Linked DNA regions of Homo sapiens. The gene in region 2 interacts genetically with the main gene of each other region. Each region holds a gene or a part of one and is shown on either strand. Other genes may lie near its edges.

Region 1 (9,441 bases), on a different chromosome or scaffold from region 2:
TGAAACATATTAAGGAAGCTCAAGAGTGTGGAAGCTCTGTTTTTTGTCCACCCTCTGATTCCACCAGCTTTCCTAATAATTTATTCGTGGTGGTTTTTTTTTTTTTTTTTTTTGAGACAGAGTTTTGATCTTGTTGCCCAGGCTGGAGTGCAATGGCGCAATCTCTGCTCACCCCAACCTCCACCTCCCAGGTTCAAGTGATTCTCCTGCCTCAGCCTTCCCAAGTAGCTGGGATTATAGGCATGCGCCACCAAGCCCGGCTAATTTTGTACTTTTAGTAGAGATGGGGTTTCTCCGTGTGGGTCAGGCTGGTCTCAAACTCCTGACCTCAGGTGATCTGCCCACCTTGGCCTCCCAAAGTGCTGGGATTACAGGCATGAGCCACCATGCCCGGCCTCATGGTTTTGTTTTTATTTTGGTTTACAACCATTAGATTCAGACTCTCCTAGAGAAAGAATCTAAGTATTAGGCTTCAAAACCTAGTAATCACTGATAAAAGTCATTTGGATGAGAAAGAAAAGAAACTTTTATCTGAGGAATGTGAGCCTCCTCTAAATTACCTGGCTCAGAGGGCCCTTGAAATGAGACAGCAGTCATGTCCCACTCACCCACCTTGAGCTAAGTAATCACCTCTTGAAGCTGCCTGCTGTATGGACTCTAGACTGACTAACACAAGTAGCTCATACCCTGTAATTCAACAATGCATAGCCAATCACTAACCAATGTTATTTCTATAAACCAATGAGAATTCCTGACAAACAACTTTGTATCAGCTCACTCCTTGTTCCCCATTTTGCCTTTAAAAAGCCTGCTTTGAAAAAAAAAAAGCCAAATGGAGCTCACACCCAAGGTTACTTGGAGAACGTGGCGGGTTATGGAAGCTTCTTTGTAAATCCACCCATCCCACTCCGTTAAAGGATCTCCCAACTCACATTTCTTGTGACCTCCCATGGCTCAGATGTGGACTGGCTCCAGGCAACATTGTAAAGCAAGCCCTTTAGATGCCTCCTCCACTTCTCACCGCTCTCAGCAAAACTGCACTGGACAGTAAATCTGGGTCTGGTCCTGCTGTTGCCATTTACTCTCTGGCACTTGGCATATGTGTGGCTGTCCTGTAAAATGGCATGACAATATCTACCTCACAAGGCTGTGGTGAGAATGAGAAAATACACGAGGAGTACTTGGTCCACTTCAGGTCAGCATACAGCACTTCTTAGATCCAGATGTCCTGTTTCCCTGACCCAACAAGGTGGCCAATGGAACAGATCCCACCACAGGTGAGTTTTCTTAGGCACACTTTTTTTTTTTTTTTCAATTAGTTGCCAATATTGAAACATAAAGAAGTTTCACATATTGACAAAAATGAGATTTTTCAGCTTCCCTTGAAAAAGTGGAGATCTGGCAACACTGGCCAGCGCCCTCCCCTGGTAACAACCACCTGGAGTGGGCAGCTCCGCCTGCCTAGTTCACCACCGTCCCTTTGGTTAAAGGATAATTTTGAAACGAAGGTAAAAATTGCAGCTCTCAAACAGATGCAAAAGAAGAGCACATGCCAAAAATTTTATTTCATTTTTCAGTGAGGAATGTCCAAGGAGAATCCAAAGATCAAAATTACTGAAATAAATGTGCTAATAGAAGCAAAACTGGGGAAGGAGGTCGGGTGAATCTACGCTAAGACACAATGTACACGTCTATAGACAAGAATTATTTTGCTCTGCTATCAGTTACCTACAGCTTACAGAGTTGCAAGATAGCTCCCATAGAATCAAAATCAAACAGCCAGGAAGGAAGGGTCTTTGTCCAGAGTCTAGATTCCAGACAATGCATAGTTTTCCACTGAAGTACAATGGGATCTCCCCCTACACTTCCATTTCCAAGTCCTATTTATGGACTGTCTAGCCCCAGAAAAGATGTGTTTTTCCCCAATCAGATGCTATAAAGCTGTCACTTCTCTTGTTTTTTATTGTTTATTCAGTTATAAAATGTCGAGGGGAAACTAGATAATCTCGATTCCCTTACGATTCCTTAATTCAAATTTCTTACTACTGCTTCCACCCAGTTCCCCGCTACATCCATAAATCATTCATCATTATTTAGCCATTCAGGTCCTTATCAGTGAGGTATAGCTAGTTTTAATTTGTGCTAAGGTGTTAATGGGCAATGTTTTATTAATATGATACTTCATCCTCAACATCTACTTCTACAACTTCAGTTACCATCTCAAACCATCACTCTCCTGAAAGTAGAACCAGATTCAGCTTTAAACACCTGCTGTCAAGAAGGCCCAGACATCTGTCAGCAAAGACCCTTGCCTGGTAAGACTGCCCTTCTCACCCCTGGCCCAGTCTTGGAGAGAGGATAACCACTGCTGGTAAACTGGGGGTGGAGATAAATGAAAATACAGAAGAGTAGCCAGCCACAGGGTCTTCTTGGATCCCAGCTGTGGGGCAGAGAGGAAATTTAACGCTTTAATTATTACACAACACTGGGCATCCTAATTATCAAATTGAGCCTATTATAACTTGAGATTTTATTATAGAATTAAAATTATTACCTGAACAAGACCAGAACAATTTGGGGTCCGATGGAGTTTTCATCTAAGTGTAAAGAAAGACTTCCCACCTCATTCATTCATTTATTCAACAGATGTCTGGGACTGTTTTAGGTGCTGTGGACATAGCAGTGATTATGACAGATAAAAAGTTCTGCTTCAAGTGCTTTATTTTTTTAAAGAGATGGGGTTTCACTCTGTTGCCCAGGCTGGTCTCAAACTCCTGGGCTCAAGTGATCCTCCCACCTCAGCCTCCCAAAGTGCTGGGATTACAGGCGCGAGCCACTGCACCCGGCCTAGTACAGAGGTTTTAAAGGAAAGCCTAGTCACTAAAAATAAAATTCTGGCCGGGTGTGGTGGCTCATGCCAAGCAGATGTTAGTGCCATGCTTGTACAGCCTACAGAACAGTGAGCCAAATAAACCCCTTTTCTTTATTAATTACCCAGCTTCAGGTACTCCTTTATGGCAATACAAAATGGACTCACACACATGCTATCGTATACTACTGCTATCATATACTATGCTATCATATACTATTACTTGTCAGCCCACACAATCCCACCTATGCTCTGGATTCTGGCCCTTCCATTCCCTCTAGGGCTAGGCACCACAAGTTATACCCTCCCTCTCTGCCAACAACATCATCATCTGCTCGCATTAGGGTACTAAAAGATTTCCCCCATCAAGATGGCCTTCATGCTCCCCTCAGCCTGACTGCACTTCAGACAGGCTTCTTCCTAACACGATTAGGCCATTCTTGTATTGCTATAAAGAAATATCTGAGTCTAGGTAATGTATAAAGAAAAGAGGTTTAATTGGCTCATGGTTCTGCAGGCTGTACAGGAAGCGTCACATAGGCATCTGCTTCTGGGGAGGCTTCAGGAAGCTTCCAGTCATGGCAGTAGGTGAAAAGGGAGCAAGCACCTCACATGGTAGGAGTAGGAACAAGGGGTGAGGAGAGTTGCCTCACACTTTTAAATGACCAGATCTTGTAAGAACTCACTATCTTGAGGATTGTACCAAGAGAATGGTACTAAATCATTCATGATAAATCTACTCCATGATCTAATCGCCTCCCACTAGGCCCCAACTCCAACACTGGAGATTACATTGCAACATGAGATTTGGGTGGGGACATCCAAACCACATCACCAATATTAGGCACCTGACTTCCCTTAGAGCATCAGAAAACTTAAAATTATAAATTATTTGAGTTCCCCTTTGAGACATACATCTTCCCTCAGCCTCTTGCCAGTTTTACAACCCAGGACTGTCTTTCTCAAGGACCCAGGGGAACCATTCTCTGAAATGTAACCTCAAAAGGAGATAGCACTCCTTTCTCCCACTTGCTGTGGGATGTGCCTAACTTTGGTGGGCACCTTGCTCCAAGCTGCAGGACTACTTCCTGTCATAAGGATGAGATGTTTACTCTTCCTTTGGATAAAGCCAATCAGCAAACACAGATGACCCATGACCCCCCCCCCCATCCTGGCCCTCACAGGATCCACATGGCTTCTTGTTCTCAGTACTTCTACACTCTCACACAGCCCTCAAAAACCCCACCACCCTCTGCTTCCAGGGAGGTGAGTTCAGACTTTCTTCTAGTCTCTTCTCTATTGTAAATAGCCCCTTTCCTTCTCTCACAAGAATCTTTTCAAGTTTAAGTCTCTCCTTACTTCATTCTCTTGGATTTTCCTTCACAGGAAGGGTTTCTTCAAATACGCCCTCCATTCCACTATACCTCCCATTCACTCCAAGACCTTCTAGAGTGTAACTCTGGGAATGTCTTCCTCCTGAGCATCCTTAAATCCTTTCTGGAACAAGGCATCAGTTTTGTAGCCAGAAAGATCCAGGTTGGAAAACCAATTCAGCTACTTACTAATGGGGCAATTTACCTTCTATAAGTCCCTGTTTCCAGCATTTGGGAAATAGGAATCCCTCCTTCTCAGGAACGGCAGCTATTTTATTAAGTCAGGAAACAAATGTATGGACTCAGATGGGCATGATATTCCCTACTTAAATGATAATGGCTCACATTTACTTAGTTCTTATTATGTGCAGGGCTCAGCATTTTACATGCATGATCTCATTTAATTCCTCATCACTATCCCATCATGTAGTTATTACTATCACCCCCATTTTATAAACAAGAAAACTGAGGCTGACAAAGAGAGGTCAAGTGACTTGTCCAATCTCACAACTAAGAAGTAGTGGAACTCATATTCGAAGCCAAATCTGTATGGAACTCAACTGCTCTGCATCACCTCCAAGGTAAAGGTTAAACTCGCTTGTGCCCCTCCCAACTCACGGACTCTGCCTCCCACTCATAACCACCCACTCATTCATGCCCCACTGCAATTGCTCATGCTGTTCTCTTCCACAGCATGAATGACTGCTTCCTCCTCACCCCGGTCCAACACACACATTTCAGCAGGTTAACATCAAGATGCAGCTTTAAAAATCCGTTTTCTATGGAGTTTTTGCTAATCCTTCCAGAGACCTTTCTTTATCTTCTCAGAGATCTTTGCATATATTCCCATATATGCTTCCATCATGTACCTTTATTATTATTATTATTATTATTTATTTTAGACAGAGTCTCCCTCTGTCTCCCAGGCTGGAGTGCAGTGGTGTGATCTCAGCTCACTGCAACCTCTGCCTCCCAGGTTTCAGTGATTCTCCTGCCTCAGTCTCCCTCCTGGGCTGGGACTATATACAGGTGGGCCCCACCATGCCTGGCTGATTTTTTGTATTTTTTAGTAGAGACGGGGTTTCACCATATTGGCCAGGCTGGTCTTGAACTCCTAACCTCATGATCCACCCCCATCAGCCTCCCAAAGTGCTGGGATTACAGGCAAGAGCCACCGCGCCCAGCCCATAGAACTTATTTTTGTCATTAGGATGAAGAATGTGAGATGATCTTAAGGCCTAGCAAAGCTGTGGGAAATACACAGGAGGGCCAAGGAAGAACATGAACGGAATTTAAAGTAGAATCAGAAGGTAAACAGATTTGCTGAATCACAAAGGTTTAATGATAAATGTAGGTAAATGAGGAAGAAAACATGATAATGGGATGGGTTTACAGTCTTGCAGGCTCAAATCAACTGTGAGAATCAGGTAATGTGCAACCTGAATCCCTAGAAAGGTGTGGCTTGAAGTCTCTATGGGGACAGCCCCTATAAATGGAGACTCAGCCCATGCCTCCTTATGAAGAGAATCACCCTGGATATGAGTGTCCTAGATCTTATGCCCAGCTCCCAGTTACTTGTCATATGCAACCTCCATACACTGAGAGGGTGACATCCACTAGCTTAGGATGGTAAAATTGTTTCCTTAGTCAATGCTACGGCTTCAGTGTTTGTGTGGGGGGCGCCTCCGCCCAGCCAGCCGACCAGTCCGGGAGGTGGGGGGCGCTTCTGCCCGGCCGCCCCTACTGGGAAGTGAGGAGCCCCTCTGCCCGGCCACCACCACGTCTGGGAGGTGTACCCAACAGCTCATTGAGAACGGGCCATGATGACGATGGTGGTTTTGCGGAATAGAAAAGGGGGAAATGTGGGGAAAAGATAGAGAAATCACATTGTTGCTGTGTCTGTGTAGAAAGAAGTAGACATGGGAGACTTCACTTTGTTCTGTACTAAGAAAAATTCTTCTGCCTTGGGATGCTGTTGATCTATGATCTTACCCCCAACCCTGTGCTCTCTGAAACATGTGCTGTGTCCACTCAGGGTTAAATGGATTAAGGGCGGTGCAAGATGTACTTTGTTAAACAGATGCTTGAAGGCAGCATGCTCGTTAAGAGTCATCACCACTCCCTAATCTCAAGTACCCAGGGACACAAACACTGCGGAAGGCCGCAGGGTCCTCTGCCTAGGAAAACCAGAGACCTTTGTTCACTTGTTTATCTGCTGACCTTCCCTCCACTATTGTCCTATGACCCTGCCAAATCCCCCTCTGCGAGAAACACCCAAGAATGATCAATAAAAATAAAAAAATAAAAAATAAAAAATAAAAGAAATATACAGCATCCTGAGATGATACAAGTTAGAGATGAGAAATAGCATTGCTAGAAAATGAAGATAATTACAGTTAAGACAGAAGAAGTAAGACCTGGTGTTCAATAGATCAGTAGGGTAACTAGAGTTAATACTAATCTACTGTACATTTCAAAATAGCTAGAAGAGAGTAATTTGAATGTTACTAGCATAAAGGTAAATGTTTAAGGTGATGGATATCCCAATTACACTGATTGATTATATGAATATATCAAATTACCACATATACCCTGACAATATTTACATCTATTATGTATCAATAAGTTTTTTTTTAAGAATCAAAAAAAGGAAAGAAAGTGTAGATATTCTAAGAGAGGACACTGTGCATTATAGAATTATAGTTCCTTTTCAAATTAAATCCACCCATCTCTGTGCCTAATGGCTGGCTTATGGCCAGGAGGGGTGTCATCCAAAATAACAGACAGCATCTGAAGAAAAAACGTGAAGTTGGGTTTGTGTTCCTTTCCCTAGTACGCTGATTCTGACATACTAGTGTACAGGAGAATAAACTAGAATGTTTAATAAAACTAAAATTCCTGGGCCCTCCTTCCTGAGACTCTGATTCAGTAGGTCTGGGGTGGGGTCAGCAACCTGGATTAATAACAGGGATCACACTGAACTCTGATACAGCTCTTCTGTATGGCAGTGCTTCTCATACTGTAATGTGCATACAAATCTCCTGGAGACCTTGCTAAAATGCAGATTCTGATTCAACACGCCTGGGACAGGACAAAACCTAGGATTCTGCCTTTTTTTTTTTTTTTTTCTGAGACAGGATCTTCAGTCCAAGCTGAAGTGCAGTGGCACTATCATAGCTCACTGTAACCTTGAACTCCCAGGCTCAAGCAATCATCATACCTTAGCCTCCCGAATAACTGAGACTACAGGTGCGTGCCACCATGCCCTACTAACTTTTTGAAATTTTTCTGTAGAGACAAGGTCTTGCCATATTGCCTAGGCTGGTCTCAAACTCCTGGCCTCAAGCGACCGTCCCACCACAGCAACTCAAAAGCGTTGGGATTACAGGTGTGAGCCACTGTGCCCAGCCCGGGTTCTGCATTTCTAACAAGCCCCAAGATGATCCCAATGCTGGTGATCTATGGACCACACTTGGAGTAGCTCACTGTTGACCGTTTTGGGATAAAAAGATTCTGATGCAGGCAGAAAGGGCAGGTGGAGAACTTACCTTCAACACTGATATACCTTTCTCTCTGTAAGGAGACGGGCATTCCCTCATCAAACAGCGTTTTTACTGACATCCCTGTCCCAAATATAGATCAGGAGGCTGAAGTCCAGTGAAACACAATGACCAACCCTGGGTCACCTAGGATGGTGGTATGTTGGCTTCACCACAAATTGTGGGAGTTTTAAATCACACTGTACTGGTGGGATTTGCCAACACTAAACCAAATGTTCATCTGGGTCTTGGCTGCAATTTTAAGAACTTCATTAGAAGGTCATAATTCCTAAGTGCTGGCACTGCTGGCATAGAAGCTGAAGCATCTCCTTTGCATGTGAAGAGAATCTATCTCCACCTATGTGTCTGAAATAATCCAGATGTGGTACTAAGGGCATCGGGCTGGCCTCAGATAGCTCAGATCCAAGAAGACTGTGGAATTACTGCAAGGGGTTTGAGAATCTATGGACAATGTTTTTCTATATATGTACTACTATTTTTAAAAGGCATATGGACATTATTAAAATAAATTTTAAAAACACCTTCAGTGTAAACACATTCAGGTTAGGGGATACTGTATGCTCTCTCATTTAATGGAAATTAAAAAACAATCACATATCACTTGGGGTCTTTACAATACTTTGACATTAAAAAGGGTCCTTGTCTTCTAGAACGTATGCTAGAAGTGGTTTGTCATAGGAAAATTCAAACTCTCTGGCATTTCAGAGAATAAATAGTATATATATCATTATTAAATATGTTTAACAAAAATCATGCTCAAGTTCTAAGTGACTACATTTCTCATTTTGTAAATCAAGGAAGAAAATACTGCAGAATTCAACCTGAAATGTTTTAATAGTGGAACTGTGTACAGGATCCTCTAAAGAGACCGCCTGGCTGGGTGCTCAAACCACATGGGCCGACCCAAAAGACGCCAAAACCAAGAGCTGCTCAGGAGGCACTAAATGTTGACGGTCTTGGCCGGCTTCACATCCTCAATTTCAGCAGACAGCCAGCGGTAAGTGCGATGACGCCGCAGCACCTCAATGGCCTTGAGTTCCAGTGGTGTTGCCTGAATACCAAGGTCTTCTAAGCCAGGCAGGTGAGGCAATTTCATGTCTGTGATGTGCATCTTTGGATAAACAAAGGACCACAGACAATGCTGAAAACTGGCTGAGAACAAAGTGCTATCCTAGCAGGCACTTAAACATTCAAGCTGGCATGAGTCCTATTATTGAGACTTAATTGCTTTCAAAGAATATGTGGCAATTTTCGATTCATGCAAATCACTATAAAAGCAGAACACACAAAGAGGGCTTAAGACAAAAGAGGGCGAGATCACCAAGTATCAGATCGAGGTCCCCAGTGGCAGCCGCGAGCACAGGATGTTGGCACTACATGAGCCATTCTATATACAGATTTCAACAGAAATAAATCTAGGGCAGGGAAGCACAAGTCACCACACTTGCCAGGGGAGGCTGAACAGGAGGGTTTAGGAATAAAATCAGGGCTTAAGCAGAGCTGGTCCATTCCTCAGTCCTCTCACGCCCCTGTTTTCTGAGCACGGGCGTTCTGACTCAGTTTTAACTTTGAATTTAGGAGATAACACAACATTTGTTCCTTGCCCATTAAAAAAAAAAAAAAACAAGTAACTTTTTTT
Region 2 (10,077 bases):
AATCCAGGACCAGCATCTTACCTGGGAAGAGCAGCAACCAGCAGTCCCCTACTGGCTGTCCCAATGGCCCAGGCTTCTTACTCTTGATATCCTGCCTTGAAACAGGACAGCCCTAGCACAAAAAAAAATCTCCCACCCTCCTCCTAGAGAAGCCCAAATACTGGTAGGAAAAGGGTCACCTGACAGCTGGGGCTCCAGGGCCTTAGAGCTGTAACCAGGAGGGAAGAGGTCCAAGGCACCCACAAAGCCATCCTCCTCTTCCACACACTTATCATAGATTAGAGCTGGATCTGGGAGAAAACAAAACAAAACCCAGATACTTTGCTTTCTGAAGTTTCCACTTCAGTGTTCACTAGAACTCCCTCTAGAAGCCTAGCCCAAAAGGCCTTCCTCAACATCAGACTTGCTTGATCTTCATCCTACCAAATTCCAACAGGATATAGTCGGTGCCATCTGGGACGATGGATGGACAATCTCACTCACTAATGTGTTCTCCCAACAAGAAGGGAGCTATAACAGAGCAGGCAAGGTTTCTTTGTTATTTTTCCTCCTGCCCAACATTGTATATGAGCGTGTGTACATGCAAGCACTCACAAACAGTCGACACATCCCAGGTCATCAAGCATGGGCTGGACAGAAGATGAGTTCAATTTTCCAAAGCAAAGGGTCTGGTAAACAGACTCCACAATGCAGGGTTCATGCCTTGGGTAGGGTTGGAATCACATGTGGCCTCTATGAGGATGACTCTGGACGAGTTTTAGTGAGGGTTGCCAGGCCACTACAGGAACCTACCCTCCCTTGCTCACTCTCACAGAGGACACCAGGACACAAGCCCAACTCACGATTACAAAGCTTCTTTAGCGAGGTGATGGAAGAAAGGGAAGACACACTCATCTTGCCCTCAAGCAATTCTTCTGCCGGTTTGGCTTGTCTCAGAAACCTCTTGTATAACTCAGTCTGAAGGGGTGTCAGCCTAAAAAAGGCAGCTGGGTCAGTGGAAAAAGCTAGACCACCCTCCTGCCCTCTGAGAACACCTTGAGAGCCCAGCCATGCTTCAGGAGCTAGGCTTTGACCCACTCCACATCTTTCAGTTGAGTTCAGTACCTACAACAAACGACCTGCTCAATCTTCACAGGCAGATATTTAGAAAGGATATCAGAAGTCCTCCGTATCAGGCATCTAGAGAAAACAGGATAAAAAGGCAAGAGGCTGGTAAAATTGCCATGCTAACTACTGGAATAAAAGCTACCACCCAAAGGACCAAGACTAGCCCTCTTTTACAGTATTAAATGTCAGAGACTCGGCCAGGCGCAGTGGCTCACGCCAGTAATCCCAGCACTTTGGGAAGCTGAGGCGGGCGGATCACCTGTGGTCAGGAGTTCAAGACCAGCCTGGCCAAAATGGAGAAACCCCATCTCTACTAAAAATACGAAAATTAGCCAAGTGTGGTGGCAGGCACCTGTAAACCCAGCTACTCGGGAAGCTGAGGCAGGAGAATCACTTGAACCCAGGAGGTGGAGGTTGCAGTGAGCCGAGATCGCCCCATTGCATTCCAGCTTGGGCAACAAGAGCAAGACTCCATCTCAAAAAAAAAAAAAAAAAAAAAAAAAAAAAAAAAAGTCATCAGACCTATGTCAAACACATCTGTATCAGGGTCTCAATTGTGGGAACAGAGACCTTCCAAACATGCTAGCTTAGACAGGCAGCACTTTCTCTTCCCCTTCAATAGGTTGCCTAGTCTTCAAGAGAAGACTGAGGCTTCCCATTGATACAGGAGCTCTAACAGGAAAAGCAAGTTGTAAATTACTAAGTCCTTAGGGGAGTTTCTGCTTGCATTTGTCCAAATGCCCGCTGCTACATGGCCCCAGGCTAAATGAAATTAAGCATAGACCTCCTGGGAAGACTATGAAGGATAGGTATCAGGCACCTAAGAAGCAGATCTTAAGAAAACACCAATTCTTCTTCCTGCCATCTAATTTTTTTTTTTTGAGACGGAGTCTTGCTCTGTCACCCAGGCTGGGGTGCAGTGGCGCAGCTCAGCTCACTCCAACCTCTGCCTCTCGAGTTCAAGCGATTCTCCAGCCTCTCCCTCCAGAGTAACCGGGACTACAGGTGCACCCCAACCACACCCAGCTAATTTCTGTATATTTAGTAGAGATGGGAGTTTCCCCATGTTGGCCAGGCTGGTCTCGAACTCCTTACCTCAAGTGATCCACTCGCCTCAGCTTCCCAAAGTGGTGGGATTATAGGCGTGAGCCACCATGCCCGTCCTGCCATCTAAAATTGGTAGGGAGAGGTAGCCAGGTAGCCAGGCAGTTGTTGGGAAGGGCAGGAGGACTCTTTAGAATGTAACCTATCAAGTGTGCATACCACCTCTGGACAAAGGAGTCCAGAATGTGCCTACCCTCTGGGTTATGTAACTCCCATGAAAAAGTCAGTCCCCTTAGCCTGGGAGCCACAACCACCTTTCAGATCTTCTCCTACCTGTCACAGAATGACTATGGGGCCTGGGAAGAGAAGCCTAATGTTTCGGGTCTGAGACCAACTGACAGGAAGCTTCTGAAATACTAGTAATGCTCCAAGGTATACTTTGCTCAAGAAGTCCAGCAGCATCAGAGAAAAGCTTCCTCAGCAGGCTGATAAACAGACCAAAACCAGACCACAGAGCCCAAGCCAGAAAGAAAGCAGGCACTTCACCTCCAAGACTCCCTTGTTTATTCAGTGGCCATAGTTAGGACACAGAACCCACTCCCTTCCTAGAATCCCAGCCTTTGAGGGCTCTAGAGAGGCAAAGCCCCCAAAGGATTGGCCATGGATGGTTTGGGAGGCAATTCTAATGACTTCGCTTAAGGTCATTACCTATTCACAATGCTGGTGAGCTCCCGCAGCCGCTCCTCTCCTAGCTGCCTGTCTGCCTCACTAGCAGCAGCGTCTCGACCCTTCAAAATTGGCAATTCAAAATGCTTCTTGAATTCATGGGCAGTCCCTAAACACAGGAGAGAAGGAAAACAGAAGAATGTGGAAAAGGAATGATTTTCCCACAGCTAGTGATGGCAGACTACCTTCTCACAAACCAGCCTTCCTACCAAGAACAAGGCTAAACAAAATATAGGCCAATTTCTGTTTAACAGATCAGAGAGGTATCAAAGCAGTGAAGACTTGAAAGGCCAAAAGTGAGATGATAGGTTAAAATCCAAATATATAATTACTTAGAGTAAATGTAAATGGATTGAATAGTCCACTAAAAAGACAAACATGGCCAGAGTGGATTTTTTTTTTTTCCTGCAATGGAGTCTTGCTCTGTCACCCAGGCTGGAGTGCAATCTCGGCTCACTGCAACCTCTGCCTCCCAGGTTCAGGCAATTCTCCTGCCTCAGCCTCCCGAGTAGTTGGGATTACAGGCACCCCTTCTCCGTGCCCAGGTAATTTTTGTATTTCTAGTAGAGACGGGGTTTCACCATGTTGGCCACGCTGGTCTCGAACTCCTGATCTCGCGATCTGCCCGCCTCAGCCTCCCAAAGTGCTGGGATTACAGGCATGAGCCACCGTGCCCGGCCAATTTTTTTTTTTTTGAGACAGGTTCTCTCCCTGTCGCCCAGGCTGGAATGCAATGGGGCAATCATGGCTCACCACAGCCTCAACCTCCCAAGTAGCTGGGACTACAGGCACATGCCACCACACTCAGCTAACTTTTGTATTTTTTTTGTAGAGATGGGATTTTGCCATGTTGCCCAGGCTGGTCTTGAACTCCTGGGCTCAAGGTACCCTCCCGCCTTGGTCTCCCAAAGTGCTGGGATTACAGTTGTGAGCCACCACACCTGGCCACATTGAGAGAAATTAAAGATGACCTAAACAAGTTGAGAGACAGATCATATTAATATATTGGAAGGTTCCGTATTATAAAAATGAAAGATCTTTCAGAATTTATCTGTTTCAATACAGCCCAATTAAAATCCAGTTAGAGTTTTTTGGTGGGTATGGCAGGCAGTAGGTGTATAAATTGACAAGTTGATTCTAAAATTTACATGGGAATGCAAAGGGCCAAGAATATCTAGGACAATGTTAAGGAGTAAGAATATAGTTGGAGGCTGAGCAGATTGCTTGAGCTCAAGAGTTCAAGACCAGCCTGGGCAACATGGCAAAACCCCACCTCTACCCAAAATACAAAAATTAGCCAGGCATGATGGTGTGTGCCTGTTGTCCCAGCTACTCAGGAGGCTGAGGCAGGAGGATCACTAGAGCCCGGAAGTTAAGGCTGCAGTGAGCCATGATCTCACCACTGCATTCCAGCCTGGGTGACAAAGCGAGACCCTGTGTCAAAAAAAAAAAAAAAAGACTATAGTTGGAATATTCACACTAATGGATATCAAGACTTATTAGGCCACAGTAAATAAAGCAGAGAAGTACTGACACAAGGAGACAAACGGACCAGAGGAACAGAATAGAGTCCATAAATAGAGCAACACATATATGAACATTTGATTTATGAAGAAGGTAGCACTGCAAAGCAATGGGGGAAAGAACGGTTTTTTCAATATATGATGTAGGGTGAACCAGATATCCAAACAGAAAAAGATGGAAGCCAGGCATAGGGGCTCATGCCCATAATTCCAGCAGTTTGGGAGGCTGATACAAGAGAATCATTTGAACCCAGGAATTCAAGACCAGCCTGAGCAACATATGAGACCCCATCTCTATAAAAAATTTAAAAGTTAGCCAATAGTGGTGGCATATGCCTGTAGTCCCAGCTACTCAGGAGGCCAAAGTGGGAGGATTGCTTGAGCCCAGGAAGTTGAGGGTACAGTGAGCTATGACTGCAACGCTGTACTCCAGCCTGGGCAACAGAGACTCTGTCTCAACAAACAAAACCAAACCAGTAGAATAAATTGTAGTGTACTCATAACATGCAATAGTATGCAATTATGAAAATGAACAAACTACTGCTACACATAATGTGGATAAACTTTATAAACATGTTGAACAAAAGAAACCAGATGTAAAGGAATACATACTATATGATTTCATTAACATAAATTCAAAAATAGGCAAAACCAACCTATAGTGTCAGGAAGGAGTTTGCTGCCGGGACAAAAGGAGAGGATAGTGATTAGAAAAGGGGCTGCTGAGAGAGTGTTAGTAATTCATCTGATGGTGGTTACACAAATGTGTTCACTTGGTCATAATCTTGCCACTCAGCAGGTTCTCTGCCTACTCTTGAGCACTGGCAAGTTGGGGTGACACTAACACACCCTTTCACAAATATATGTGTGGTTGCCAGGGATTAGGGGAGGGAGGAATGAGGAGTTTTGATTATTATTACTATTTTAGAGACAGGGCCTTGCTCTGTTGCCCAGGCTAGAGTGCAGTGGCATGATCACAGCCTCCTGAATAGCTAGGACCACCAGCACACACCACCACACCCAGCTAATTTTCTTATTTTGTAGAGACAAGGTCTCACTATGTTGCCCAGGCTGGTCTTGAACTGGCCTCAAGTGATCTTCCCACCCCAGCCTCTCAAAGCACTGGGAGGGGAGGGTAGAGGAGTTATTGGGTAGATTTTAAGTTTAGCAAATAGAAAAAAAAAATCTGAAGATGGATGATGGTGATGGTTGCACAAAGTGAATGTACTTAATACCACTGAATTGTTACATTTAAAAATGGTTAAAATGATTTTTAAAACACACACGTCTGCCCAAGACAGAGCTTGCTCTGAGGCCAAAACTCTTCTAAGGGAGCTAGGATCTGAGGAACAAAAATAATAATTCCACCCTCAGCTCATCATGACACCATTCCCTGTATAGCCCCTGCCACCTCTGCAATGGAAAAATGGCCAACATGGGCTTTGCTGAGTTGCTCAGCAGATCCAAGGCCTCCCAATGGCTTTGCTACTCCCTGACAAGAGAAGCCTTCCTACAAGAATGCCTAGTGACCCACATATAACTAGCATTCTCTTCTTTCTCTCCTCAGCTGGAGTTATACTCCCAAAGACAAGGCAGGGCTCCTCTCTGATGTGGCAAACAAGGCTAGATTCTTACCTAGGATGCCGGAATTAACAAAATGTACCAAGCTGAAATACTCAAGCAGATCATTCTGGATGGGAGTTCCGGAGATGAGCACCCGCCGGCTGGTGTTCAAGCTGTCCAGGGCTTGGTAAGTCTGATTCTCAGAGTTCTTGAGCCTGTGTCCCTGCAAGAGAATCCTTATTCAGAGCGCAATGTGGCATTCCCTATACGGTAGCAAAGTCTCATGTAGACAGGAAAAGAGGAGTCAAAAACATTCCAGGCCGGGCGCCGTGGCTCATGCCTGTAATCCCAGCACTTTGGGAGGCCGAGACAGGTGGATCACTTGAGCCCAGGAGTTCCAGACCAGCCTGGCCAGTGTGGTGAAACCCCATCTCTACAAAACATACAAAAATTAGCTGGGCATAGTAGCTTACACCCATAGCCCCAGCTACTTGGGAGGCTGAGATGGGAAGATCGCTTGAGTCCAGGAGGTCGAGGCTTCAGTGAGCCGTGAGTGCACTGCAATCCTCCCACCTCAGTCTCCTGAGTAGCTGGGACTACAGGCATATGCCACCACTATAGTGACATAGTGAGAAACTGTCTCAACAAAAAACAAAAACATTACAGGTTCTAGGGCCTTGGGAACTAGGCAGGGGGCAGCATGAGAGAGGGTTCACCCACTTAACTATGGAGAATATTAGGCTCAAAAGACAGACTTCCTGTTTCCAGACCAGTGCTATACCCATAAAGCAAAGATTCCCTCTGTTCCTTTCCATCCCTTTCCCTGCCCCACCTCCAGAGCCTTGGCAGCCCACCTATACTCTTCAGAGATCATGTGGACATATGACAAACCCATGCTTTCAGGGAGTCCTCCCCTCCACATCAGCCTACCCAACTCAGAACCTTCTGAGCCAGACGCCTTCTGTATTAGACTCCAGGCCTTGTCTGGGCCATCAGTGTTAAAGGGACTTGGACCAGGCTCCATGTCCCACCAGAATCCTCACAGCTAGTAGAGCTAAAGAGCTTCCCTCTGCTTCCCTTCACATCTCTTCCCCAATCTCTATTCTCCCTGTCCTGTCCTCCCATTCTCTCCACACCTCTACTACTTCTTTTAAGCCTTTTTCAAGAAAATCATAAAGGACAACCTTCCCTCTTTCTCCAAGAACTACATGGGCAAGATTAGGCCCATACCTTTTCTACATCCAGCCCCATACTGGGGAAGGCACACAAAACTCAACCACTCAACCAAGAATCAGCAATCAGTCTTGCTCCCTTGGGTCAGGCTTTGACAACGCAATTAAATGCAGACCCTTCACTGACTCTTCCATCTATAGCATCAAGTCCAAGCTCTTTAAGCTCACTAGCTTAGCATTCAAAGCCCTTCTCAATGAGGCCCCAGTGAACTTCTCTGACACTCTCCAAGCTTGTCACGGTCCAGGAATCCTGACCTTGTCACTCCTAATGCTGGCTTTCCTTATGTCTCTTTGCCCATGCCACCCCTCTGCCTAGAGCTCTTTTCCACAGGCAAGTTCCTCAGATGTCACCTCCTATGCAAAGCCTTCCTCAGTGACTCCAGGCTGCTTGTCTCTCTCAACTCTGTGCTCCTGTGGCACTATATACGTAATGGCTGCTACTATTTAGTGAACCCGTTTAATGTGGTAGGCATGGTACTAACTAAACACTTTACCTGTATTCTGTTCTGTAATCCACACGAATGGAAATTGTATTATCCATTTTAGAGATGAAGAAACTAAGATTCAGAGAGGTAAACAGTTATCCAAAATCATGCCGGTAGAAAGTAGCAGAGCTGGGATTTGAACTCAGGTCTGTATGACTCTGAGTCTGGACACTGTACCACTCTGCCCTCATCCATAATATATATACTAGAGTACTAATCACACTCTACTGTACTTTATCTTCTCAACTAGGCAGAGACTAGGATTTCTTAAGGCAGAGACTATGTCAGATTCGCCTGTATAATTTCAGTGTATAGGACAAAGCTCAGTGAATATTAGTTGAATGAAAGAATGAAATAATGACCAATGTTGCTATTAAAGATTAAATAAACCAACGGGGCATGGTGGCTCATGCCTGTAATCCTAGCACTTTGGGAGGTTAAGGCAAGTGGATCACCTGAGGTCAGGAGTTTGCGTCCAGCCTGGCCAACATGGTGAAACCCTGTCTCTACTAAAAATACAAAAATTAGCTGGGTGTGGTGGCATGTGCCTGCCTCCCCAGTTCAAGCAATTCTTGTGCCTCAGCTTCCTGAGTTGCTGGTATTACAGGCATGTGTTACTATGCCGGGCTAACTTTTGTATTTTTAGTAGAAACAGGGTTTCACCATGTTGGCCAGGCTAGTCTTGAAATCCTGACCTCAAGTGATCCGCCCATCTCAGCCTTTCAAAGTCCTGGGATTACAGGTGTAAGCCACCGCATTTGGCCTAGAAATTTAATTAAGAAAAAAAAAATTATTAGAGGCTCCAAGTACTAGCCCTAAAAAAAGCCTTAGACTTCTGAACTGAAGAGGGAAATGAGACTTGAAAGTCAGAGGAAATTACCCAACAGGTCCAGGGGAAATGGGCACCAACAATTAGATCTTCTAAACTGAAGCTCCCTGAGGGACAGCATTGTGAGATCTCCAGGGCTTGACACATAAAAGGCACTTAATAAATAACCCAGCGAATGAAATGGGCTGCCACACTATCCTGTCTCTGCAAAAGAGAAAGCCAACCCCAGCTCCCTATTGGACCAGTCACTAAGGATCCACATGGGTCTCAATGAGGAGCACAGGGACAACCCTTCCATACCCAAGGCAAGCTTCTTCCTGCACCAAGCATCCAAGGCAGAGAGGGATAGGAAAAAGAGCCACGACTTGGAATCTCACACCTGCATTCACATTCCAGCTTACTATGTACTCGCTAGGAGAACCTGGGCAAGTCACTACGCACTTCCCTGAGTTTGTCTCCTAATCTTTAAGATTGAGATGACGATGACGTCAATCCCTCTGCTATTTATACACTTGTACAAAGTGCTCCCATATATCCTCTCTTGATCTGTATCATATCCCTTTCAAGTAGCCCATGTGCCATCCACTCTACAGATGAAGAAACAATCTCAGAGCAGTCTCATCTGTGGAAAGTCACGCTTGTAAGTGGCAAAGCCAGAGCTGATCCCGTGTCTTTTGATTGAGGATCAAAGATTTTGTACATAGAAGTTATTATGAAAAACTGTGTTCCAGAGAAAAGCGTTACTGGGAGGAAGATGCTGTGGGAGCTGAGAACATGAAAGCCTGAAATGGCACCTTCCCTTTCCAGGGTCTGAACAGGACAAACCCTCTCCTTCCCTGGAGTAAGGTGACCATCTTTTCAGGACTTTTGGTTCCTCAGATCTCTGACAGTTGACAAAATAAAAGGTAAACAAGTAGAAAGGTAAACAGCCAAGGGGCTGCAGTGTGATAAGAGGCAGCCTCATCCCTTGTGCCCTGCACAGAGTCAGCTCATAAAACAGGACAGAGTGGGGAAGAAAAAAACACTAAGGAGTAGAAAAAGGCTGGGCACGGTGGCTCAAACCTGTAATCCCAGCACTTTGGGAGGCCAAGGCCGCAGATTATTTGGGGCCAGGAGTTCGAGACTAGCCTGGCCAACATGGTGAAACCCCATCTCTACTAAAAATACAAAAATTAGCCAGAGTGGTGGTGCACGCCTGTAATATCAGCTACTCGGGTGGCTGAGGCAGGAGAATTACTTAAATATGGGAGGCAGAGGTTGCGGTGAGCCAAGATCACGTCACTGCACTCCATCTGGACAACAGAACAAGACCCTTGTCTCAAAAAAAAACAAAAAGTAGAAAAAAATTTAGATGCTCCCTAATCCTCAAAGGCTCAACAGCTACAGCCTGCCTTCCTCTCCCACAATGCTTTGGACCTGGCTCCTGGCATAGTCCCCCTCCACAGTGATGAAGCAGATGTCAGGGCCTTGAACCACAGGGCAGTAACATGCATACCTCACCTCAACCTGGTAAGTTCCCTACTCCTACCAGGAAGTTGGGAGTTTGAAGACCCGCCAATGACTGACCA

Evidence for each region. A genetic interaction does not mean that the proteins touch.
Region 1: changes in RAD54L (region 2) and NDUFA9 together harm fitness more than expected from each alone (negative genetic interaction), as found in Homo sapiens cells (one study listed by BioGRID).

What each region holds. Positions count from the first base shown.
Region 1 is NC_000012.12:4,686,410-4,695,850, reverse strand, and holds the end of NDUFA9 (NADH dehydrogenase [ubiquinone] 1 alpha subcomplex subunit 9, mitochondrial precursor), read right to left. Parts: intron 8,914-9,441; coding exon 8,743-8,913; 3' UTR 1,534-8,742; downstream 1-1,533. UniProt on the Homo sapiens protein: Accessory subunit of the mitochondrial membrane respiratory chain NADH dehydrogenase (Complex I), that is believed not to be involved in catalysis. Required for proper complex I assembly.
Region 2 is NC_000001.11:46,263,568-46,273,644, reverse strand, and holds part of RAD54L (DNA repair and recombination protein RAD54-like), read right to left. Parts: intron 6,187-10,077; coding exon 6,036-6,186; intron 2,987-6,035; coding exon 2,860-2,986; intron 1,180-2,859; coding exon 1,105-1,179; intron 974-1,104; coding exon 843-973; intron 291-842; coding exon 180-290; intron 22-179; coding exon 1-21. UniProt on the Homo sapiens protein: Plays an essential role in homologous recombination (HR) which is a major pathway for repairing DNA double-strand breaks (DSBs), single-stranded DNA (ssDNA) gaps, and stalled or collapsed replication forks.